Linked DNA regions of Homo sapiens. The protein of the gene in region 1 interacts with the protein of each later gene in a biochemical or structural test. Each region holds a gene or a part of one and is shown on either strand. Other genes may lie near its edges.

What was found.
Region 2: of the proteins of RPS6KB1 (region 1) and PDGFRB, one has a biochemical effect on the other in vitro, tested with the Homo sapiens proteins (one study listed by BioGRID).

Annotation. Positions count from the first base shown.
Region 1 is NC_000017.11:59,944,141-59,948,925, reverse strand, and holds part of RPS6KB1 (ribosomal protein S6 kinase beta-1), read right to left. Parts: intron 3,521-4,785; coding exon 3,408-3,520; intron 2,376-3,407; coding exon 2,138-2,375; 3' UTR 1,340-2,137; coding exon of another isoform or gene 1,324-1,339; 3' UTR 1-1,323. UniProt on the Homo sapiens protein: Serine/threonine-protein kinase that acts downstream of mTOR signaling in response to growth factors and nutrients to promote cell proliferation, cell growth and cell cycle progression.
Region 2 is NC_000005.10:150,117,846-150,122,249, reverse strand, and holds part of PDGFRB (platelet-derived growth factor receptor beta isoform 1 precursor), read left to right. Parts: intron 1-209; coding exon 210-370; intron 371-927; coding exon 928-1,046; intron 1,047-1,239; coding exon 1,240-1,362; intron 1,363-2,126; coding exon 2,127-2,238; intron 2,239-2,683; coding exon 2,684-2,783; intron 2,784-3,397; coding exon 3,398-3,503; intron 3,504-4,399; coding exon 4,400-4,404. UniProt on the Homo sapiens protein: Tyrosine-protein kinase that acts as a cell-surface receptor for homodimeric PDGFB and PDGFD and for heterodimers formed by PDGFA and PDGFB, and plays an essential role in the regulation of embryonic development, cell proliferation, survival, differentiation, chemotaxis and migration.

The DNA.
Region 1 (4,785 bases):
CAGTTAGTAAACATATTTGAAAACAAGTATCAAGAGTATCACAAGCCATTTACAGTCTGAAATAATGCCTGTACATATCACCATAGCTTTTCGGGTTCTGTTTTTTCAGACATCACAAATTGTCAAAGAACAAGGATCTGCACTTTTTAAGTATAATTTCTGCCCTTAATTATTATTGTAGCTTCTAATTTACCAGCAACAGTCAAAGTTCTCAGTAGGCTGCTGCAATAAGGGAGGAGGGGGAAGAGGGAGTGATTTTTTTTTTAAAGGCTTTCTGTCCAAAGATGAACTTTTATCGATTCTTTCAATTATTGCCACAATTGAAAAGGTGTATGTCCAATCATTTTTCATGGTTCTGTTTTTGCTTACTGTCATAGGATTTCATCCCATCTCATTTGAGTTGCAATTTCAAAAAGCAAAGCCTTGCTCTTTTCTGACTGAATTCAACATGCATAAAGAATTTTATGGCTTGGATCCTATGGCTCAAAAAGGTTTGAAAACATAGCAAGCAGCATCTATTTAAAAAAATCCTAGGGTTGCAAAATATTACAAATTGACTTTGCACACTCAGACTGAAGACATTATAAAAGACAAACAAAAAAGGTGATACAACTCAACTGCAACTGCATGATCATCTATTATACCAGTATGCACTGAAATATATTTTTATAAAGCTCTGCAGATATTAAACCCTTTCACCAGCTAAAGTCATGGAAATGCTCTCTTTAAGGCAGGAAATATTTAAGAAAGGTAAAGTTACCTTTATTTTTATTCTTTTAACCTGTAAATCATTTATGTAGATTTTGTTACAATTTCAAAAACATAGTGTCCTGTTAACATGTTTCCTAAATTAAGCCACTAAGTTTTCTTTACTGTGGAAGACATTCATCAAAAGGCCATCAAATATTTTTACAATCAAAAAATGTAGCCCAAGTATAGGAGAAAAAAAAATAGACCTTTTTTTCTTTTTAAAACTGTTGAGGAAAAAAATATAAGGAAGGTAGACAGCAGAAACAGTAGAAAGAAGTAAAACTGAAAATCTTACCAATTTGCTGTAAAGAGATTAGACAGAGAGTGGGCCACAGCAACACCCTCTTCCCCTGGATATCCCTATCTCCCTCACCTTGCCGACCACAGTATGTATTTTTTATCCTGACTCTCTTCTGTTGTTCTTCAGCCATGGGCTGAAGACATTTGGTGTCTTGAACCAAATACTGGTGTAAGAACAGGTGGCGATTTTTTTTTCCAGTGCAATGCAGGCCCGGGACAATGATGAAATGTAGGACATACAACTTATGCCCATTCCAAGGCTTCCAGTTAAGCTTAGCACATAGCAGTACTGCAAGTAGAAATGATTAAATAGATTCATTTTTTTTTTCTCATATTACAGACAGGTATTGCAGCTGGGTTACTGAAAATAAACCCCAGGTCCACCCCAATCCCTCAAACGAGCCACAGCTGTGGTTAACAATGATTCATTTGCATTTTATTATTTCACCAAGAGAAGAAACAGAAGTTGTCTGGCTTTCTTCACACCAACCAATAATTTCGCATTTTAAAGTTTGGGATGTTTTTCATAATGAGCTGAATCAAAAATCTATTTGAAAAATATATATTTATATAAAAAAAAGATTCAGGTTGTTTGCACGTAAAACATCAATTGGTAAGTTTCTTTTGTCTTTGCTTCCATTTTGCTGGAAAAAGTTTGACCAAGCTTGCATGCTAATTTGTCCTTAGTTGCAAGTATTATAGGCAATTTTGTACTTTGCCTAATGAAAGGATAACCCTTCTTCAACACAATCAGAACTCAACAGTGATTCAGAAGCAACATCCTACCCTTAATACTGTCAGTTTCGAGTCATCAACATGAAAATCCTTGATAAGGTTGAGAAGATGTCGCGAGGAATCAATTAATTGATGTGCCTAAGAGTTCAGCAATACTATTTTGCTTTAAGTTTTTTTTTGCACCATTGATTGATTTTTTAAAATCCACGTTTATTTTTCCTGTGTCTGAAGTGTTCTATGTAATGACATTGACTCTCTGAAACTGTCATTTTGAGTCGTTTCACCTTGCAGGATGCTCACACATCTCCCTCTCCACCTTTTTTGCCTTAAATTCATTAAAAGCATTGCTCTGTCATAGATTCATACGCAGGTGCTCTGGCCGTTTGGAGATCATGGGAAAAGCTTGTTTTTTGTATGGCCCAGAGTTCGGCTGTCGTATTGGAAGTGGTGCCGATGCTTCCCCACTCATTGTCACATCCATCTGCTCTATGCCACTTGTTTCCATTGGGTATTCCACAGGTGTCTGAGGATTTGCTGTGCTGGCCGAAGCACCTCTTCCCCAGAAATCCCCAGGAGAAAATTTGACTGGGCTTTAAGACAAGGAAGAGCTATCATTCATTTGCTTAAGGGTCATCTCAACAAGACATATTTCCTTTACGTTTAAAGGGAGTGGGGTAACATGACATTTATTTTCATTTAATTTTATTTTCACGTGGATTAGCACAAAGGCAAAAATTGAACCATCTCTCCCCCACCTAGATTAACTGCTAGAATTTCCTAACTGGTCTCTTTACCTCTACACCTGACCCCCAAAACCCTCAATGAGATATATATACATTTAAATGCGTATTATATATATCATTTTACTCTCCCCTGCTCAAAACAGCTTTCTATTGCATTTAAAATAAAATACTTTTCCAAACCTCTGCCCTTCTCCTCACTCACCACACACTCCAGGAACACTGATTTCCCTTTCACTTCCAGGAAAAGGGCAACTTTTCTCCTCCCTCAGGGTTTTTGCATTTGCTGTTCTTCTGCCTGCAACATTCTTATACCTCCTATTTTTGTAGGGCTGGCTCTTTCCGTTCACTGCTAGATGTTACTACACCAGGGAGGCCTTTCTCTGATCACTGTGAGTAGAAGCCCCCTTGTTTTTCCTCTGCTCTCTACCAGTACATTCTTTTTTTCCCCTTTTAAATTATAGCACTTTGCACTACTTGTAATTATATTTTTGTATATCCTTTGTCTATTGTGACTTTCCCACTAAATTGTAAGCTTCATCAGGACAGGGACAATTCCTGTATTATAGTACTATATAGATACACACACATAACATGCAGTATGTAGTGCTGGTGCTCTTGGTGCACAATAAATGCTGAGTGAATGGATAAAGAGGACATTTGCCAGTATGGCTGCTTACTTTTGGGAGGGAAGGTAAACCATATAACATCATAGATTAGTCAGACTAGTCCTTTGCAATGTAAGATATAGATGCTGTGCTTATGTCAACCAAAGAGAGTATGACAGTCTTTCATTTATATAACTTGGCATAAACTTCTTAAGCAAACACTCTTGTAGGTTGTTTAAAAACAAAAAAAAGTGAAAATAAGAGTGTGAAATACCTGACAGGTGTTCGTGGGCTGCCAATAAATCTTCGAGGTGATCGGATTTTTGGTTCAAAGGAAAACTTTTCTTTCACACTTTCAAGTACAGATGGAGCCACATATGTAAAACCCTGAAAGACAGTAACAGTGGACTACAGAATGGCATTTTGTCATGTATCTCAAGAGAATGGGGTTGTTCAGTCTGACATACCTACACAATGATGCACACCTAAAACCACCAATGTGTACACTCTCCCACGTCCTCAACCTCATTTTTAGACCCGTTAACTTCTTTCCAGCCATTTCGTGAGGCACACACTTCAAGAAAGCAGAATTCCATTGAGCCTGATATGCTAGCAAACAAAATTCTACCCTACTGACAGGAATAGAAAAAAAAACAGGAAAATTCAGGCTCCATATGAAGATGTTAAATACGCCCAGGCACGGGGGCTCACGCCTGTCATCCCAGCACTTTGGGAGGCCAAGGCGGGCAGACCACCTGAGGTCAGGAGTTAAAGACCAGCCTGGCCAATGTGGTGAAACACCGTCTCTACTAAAAATACAAAAATACACCACCATGCATGGTGGTGCACGCCTGTAATCCCAGCTACTCGGGAGGCTGAGGCAGGAGGATCACTTGAACCTGGTAGGTGGAGGTTGCAGTGAGCAGAGATCGCACCACTGCATTCTAGCCTGGGCAACAGAGTAAGACTCCATCTCAAAAATTAAAAAAAAAAAAAAAAAAGATGTTAAATACTAGGAGAAATGTAAAGAAACTTCTAGTGTTTCTAGCCACAGGCATATAAGCAATTAAGTTTATCACCCTAAAACAGTTTCTTATAATCAGACCAAAGTAAAAACAATTTTCTGACTTGGCATCAAAGTCAGATCTTGTGATCTTTCTGGTTTTACGCCAATGATTGGACAGAATTCGTTTTTTGTTTTGTTTTAAGAGATGGGGTATCCCTATATTGCCCAGGCTGGAGTGCAGTGGTGATAACATAGCTCACTGCAGCCTCAAACTCCTGGACCCAAGCTATTCTCCCACCTCAGCCCCTCAAGTAGCTGTGACTATATAGGCACGTGTGATCTCTGCCCAGCTAGAATTTGGTGTTTTCTTGATGAATAAGTATCAACATTTCAAAAACCTTCAGTTGTAATAGGCAAAAATGCAGTTTTGTTCATTTTAGTTCTCTCTTGGATCTTACTATTAGGCTACCAGCTGTCATTTCTCTAGCTGTCAATGTTCATTCTTTTAACCATCTTCACCTATCTTCTATTTATCAAAATCTATGAGTAAGCATTATGTGTTACAATAAATAAGACTCAGCAAAGCTCTGAGTGAAGTCCCAAAGAGTGAGGTGCAATTCTGAAGTGCATATGATTTGTGACAGTT
Region 2 (4,404 bases), on another chromosome or scaffold:
GTTCTAACTGTCATTTTGGTAGCCTCAGTGCCCAGCTTGGCCCAGCAGGTTGGTTGAAAAGTCTTGATCCACAGGCTTTCCTACTGGGATAGACTGAAGGAAGATGAGTGAGTGTGTGAGTGAGAGAAGAAATTCATGAGTGGCAAGGGGCAGGAGGGGAGGGGAAGGCAAAGCCTGCAGGCTCTCCTGTGATGCTCCTTTACCCCCAGCCATGTGTCCTTGACCGGGGAGAGCGACGGTGGCTACATGGACATGAGCAAGGACGAGTCGGTGGACTATGTGCCCATGCTGGACATGAAAGGAGACGTCAAATATGCAGACATCGAGTCCTCCAACTACATGGCCCCTTACGATAACTACGTTCCCTCTGGTGGGTGGACATAGTGACATAGTACCCCACATCCAAACAGGCTGATGCTCTTCACATGCCCAGCCTTGCCAAAAACCCTGAGAAGAAGGGAGCCTCGTGCCCATTTCATAGATGTAGAAATTGAGGCTAGCCACCTGGCCAAAACTGATCTGTAGTGGACCCCTAAACGGAAGCCCTGTTTATGGATCCGGAAACATGCGTAGAACCCTCAGGGAGGGAGAGAGCAGGGATATGGGAGGACCTGGCCTTTTGTCGTGGTAGGGAAAGTGATCTACTCAGCTTCAGCCCCAGGCTGGTCTAGTGTCCCTGAGAGGCAGGCAGGCAGGCCAGGCTGGGCAAAAGTGGCCCAAGGGCTAATGCCAAAAGGCCAATGAGGGCACTGATAAAGCAGGAGAACTTTGAGTTTGATATTAAGAAATCATTCTCCTTTTAGGGGAGACCTAGACGATCAGTAGCCACCTGTCTTGGACATTCAGTCTCCCAGGAGCCAAAGGGCAGGGGTCCTGTGGGCCAGAAGGAGATATAAGATAGCAGGTGACCCTCTGCTTCTCCTCTAGCCCCTGAGAGGACCTGCCGAGCAACTTTGATCAACGAGTCTCCAGTGCTAAGCTACATGGACCTCGTGGGCTTCAGCTACCAGGTGGCCAATGGCATGGAGTTTCTGGCCTCCAAGAACGTACGTGTGGTGTTGGTGGGGCAGAGTGGGGGCTGTGGGGAGGTGGGTCACCCAGCCAGCCAGCATCCTCCAAGAGCACACCAGGGTGGCCTCTCGCACATGGGCAGTGTTGTATTTTCCCAAAGCCCTTGACATGAAGGGTCTTTCCCCACAATTGTCCCCAAGGCCTCAGCTCCCCTCTCCCCAAACCCAGTGCGTCCACAGAGACCTGGCGGCTAGGAACGTGCTCATCTGTGAAGGCAAGCTGGTCAAGATCTGTGACTTTGGCCTGGCTCGAGACATCATGCGGGACTCGAATTACATCTCCAAAGGCAGCGTGAGTACCTTCCCTGGCCCCTGCAGGGCAGTCACAGTGCCTGTGACCGCAGGAACAGATTCCCTCCTGACCAGTGTGGCTGCAGCTCATAGGAAATCTGTGTGGGGCTCCTTGTGGCCTGCCCTGACAGCAGTGATGGGCTGTGCCTGCCCAGCTATGTGTGCAGGGACAGGATGGGGAGCCGCCCAGGAGTGCATGGAGCAAGTATAGCGGCGGGGAGGGCTGGCTATAATGGGTCCAGGGTGGGGGAAGGGGGAACAGGCCGAATGTGTTGTTCCAGTGGTGGTGGGCAGAGGAAGAAGCCCAGGTGACAGGGCAAGAAAGATGAGCAGGTCACATGCAGTAGCAGGGATTGGTCTGGTTAAAACGTGATCATCCTGCCTGTCTCTCATCTCCCCACTTTTCCGCAAACCCCAGATGGAGGGACGCTAGGCCCAGAGATCAAAGGCAGCCAGGATAAGAGCTTGGGGGGTGCCTTGACAAGTCCCTGGCTCCCACACTTCACTACTCAGACCCTGGGGCTTTTCCCCAGGGACAGGGGCTGCCTTGTCCCCAGCTAGTGAGAAAGGAAACAGCCTCTGGTCCTCTGACCAGCCCTGGGATGGACATGGGAACTGTGCTGCGCAGAGACCAGGGCCCTCACAGGGAATGGGACGGAGAAGTGGTTGTGGGTGGGAGCTGCCAGATACCCTCCTCCCATCCCAGGTGCAGAGTGGGGCTGAGGTCCTTCCTTGCACTCAGCACCTGTCCTGACCTCCCTACAGACCTTTTTGCCTTTAAAGTGGATGGCTCCGGAGAGCATCTTCAACAGCCTCTACACCACCCTGAGCGACGTGTGGTCCTTCGGGATCCTGCTCTGGGAGATCTTCACCTTGGGTATGCTTGCTTCCTCCTCCAGCCCTCAGCATCCTGGCCTGGTGTCTACCTCGACCACTCATGCCTCTGGCCTGGTGGGGCTATGGGACGAGCCCTGATACAGGGATCCTGGTTCAGGTCCCAGCTCTGCTACCTTCTCCCTGCTGTGTGATGTTAGCAAATTCTTTGCCCTCTCTGGGTCTCTTTATCTCCCTGTCTGAGCATTGACAGGTTTGAACAGTGACATCAGAAAGCCTGCTTGGCTCTCACATTCTGGCTGTCTATCCTGGGGAGGGTTGTGGTCTCTGTTCAGAGCCCATGAAGGAGCCCACAGTTCCAAATGCCAGGGGCACTGCCCCCTTACCCATACCAGGGCCAGCATGGCTCTCCTTGTCCTGTAGAAGAGGGTGCCCTGCCACTTTTCCACCCCTGAGCCTGTGTATCTCTTGTCTCTGCTCCCCAACAGGTGGCACCCCTTACCCAGAGCTGCCCATGAACGAGCAGTTCTACAATGCCATCAAACGGGGTTACCGCATGGCCCAGCCTGCCCATGCCTCCGACGAGATGTGAGTGGAGTCTCATGCATTTGGGAGGATTTTGTGCTGCAAACAATAGATATCCAACTCTACTGGCTTAAACCAAAGATGAGAGATTTGTTAGCTCAGAGATCTAGAAAGCCTTGGTGTAACTGGATCCAGCCATTCAAAGGATGGCATCAGGAACCTCTTGTTCTAGCCCTGAGCTCTGCTTTGCTCTGTGTGGCCTCATTTTCAGGCCAGCATTGCCCAAATGGCTACCAGCAGTGCCAGTCTCATGTCCTACTGCTTGCTCCATAGTGCCAGCAAAAGTCCCAGAGCTGACCTTCAAGGGCTCAGGTGGGGTCACATGCCATCAAGAACCAACCGTGGAAGCTGCAGGGCTGAAAACTGTTGGCGAAGGTTGGCTCCTGTGCTCACCCAGGCGTAGTCAACCTGTGGAACCATGTGGAATGGGGGCTCTGCGAGGGCCTCCCAAGGGAATATCCAGAGACAGGACCTCTGGATACACCCAGCCACCACTTCCCTCCAGCTCCTTTCCATGGCTCACCTTGTTCTGAGAGGCAGCAGCCTCCTGCTCCCCCAGCCCTGCCTTGTCCCCTGAACCCTGGGCCAGAGGCCCTGACCCTTCTCCCTATCCCCAGCTATGAGATCATGCAGAAGTGCTGGGAAGAGAAGTTTGAGATTCGGCCCCCCTTCTCCCAGCTGGTGCTGCTTCTCGAGAGACTGTTGGGCGAAGGTTACAAAAAGGTATGTTGAGGCAGGGTAGGGGTGGAGCACGGAGAGCTCTGGTGCAGAAGTCAGACACCGAGTACAAGGCTCTGCGTGATGGGCTGGCATTTAGGGGACCACCCTTTGTCCTCTCTGGGCCTCAGTTTCCCTGCTGGTTCTAGGAGGGGATGGGCTGGCGCTGTGAGTTTATTTTAGCAGCAGAGAGCTTTATGAAATGGAATCCTACATGGAAGCTGATCGATTAGATGCAGGGAGGGGGCCTAGAGCACTGTCTGTCCTGCTGCCTCCCTCAGGCCTTTACCTCCATACCGAACCGTGGGGCTCCTTCAGAAGTGTGAATAACCCCAGGTTACATGACCATGAACCGCCTGACCACTTGGATCCTGTCACAGGATTGTCCAAGGCCCAAAGAGCCAGTAGGGCCCTGAAACCCTGCCCCGTCCAACAACACGGGTCCAAGTGAGGAGGAAATACACATGGCCTTTGACACAGAGGCAGCTCCTTCTTTGGGTCCATTTCTCACCCCCACTGCCCCCCGGGGATGGTCCCAGGGACCTGGGAGATGGAGTAAGGTCATCACCACTTCACAGCAAAGGAAACTGAGGCCCTGAAGAAGGACGCTGAGGCAGCATGAGAGCCTGTGCCTGTCTGCTCTGAAGTGGGGGAAGAGTTAGAGTCCTGGGTGCTGGTCTGATAACTGCCCCTCCCTGGGTGGTCCTGAGCTCACCATGCCTTGTAAGATTCTATGTGAGGTAGGAGGGCAGCTCAACCATGTGGCTTGGGCAAATCCCTTTCCCCTCTGAGCAGCGGGGGTCTTATTTATACAAAGGGGGATGGGCTCGGTTAGAAGATCCCTGAAGGCATTTCTGGCCTGACCATCCCTGTTTCTTTGGTTCTCCCTGCCCCGGGAGCAGAAGTA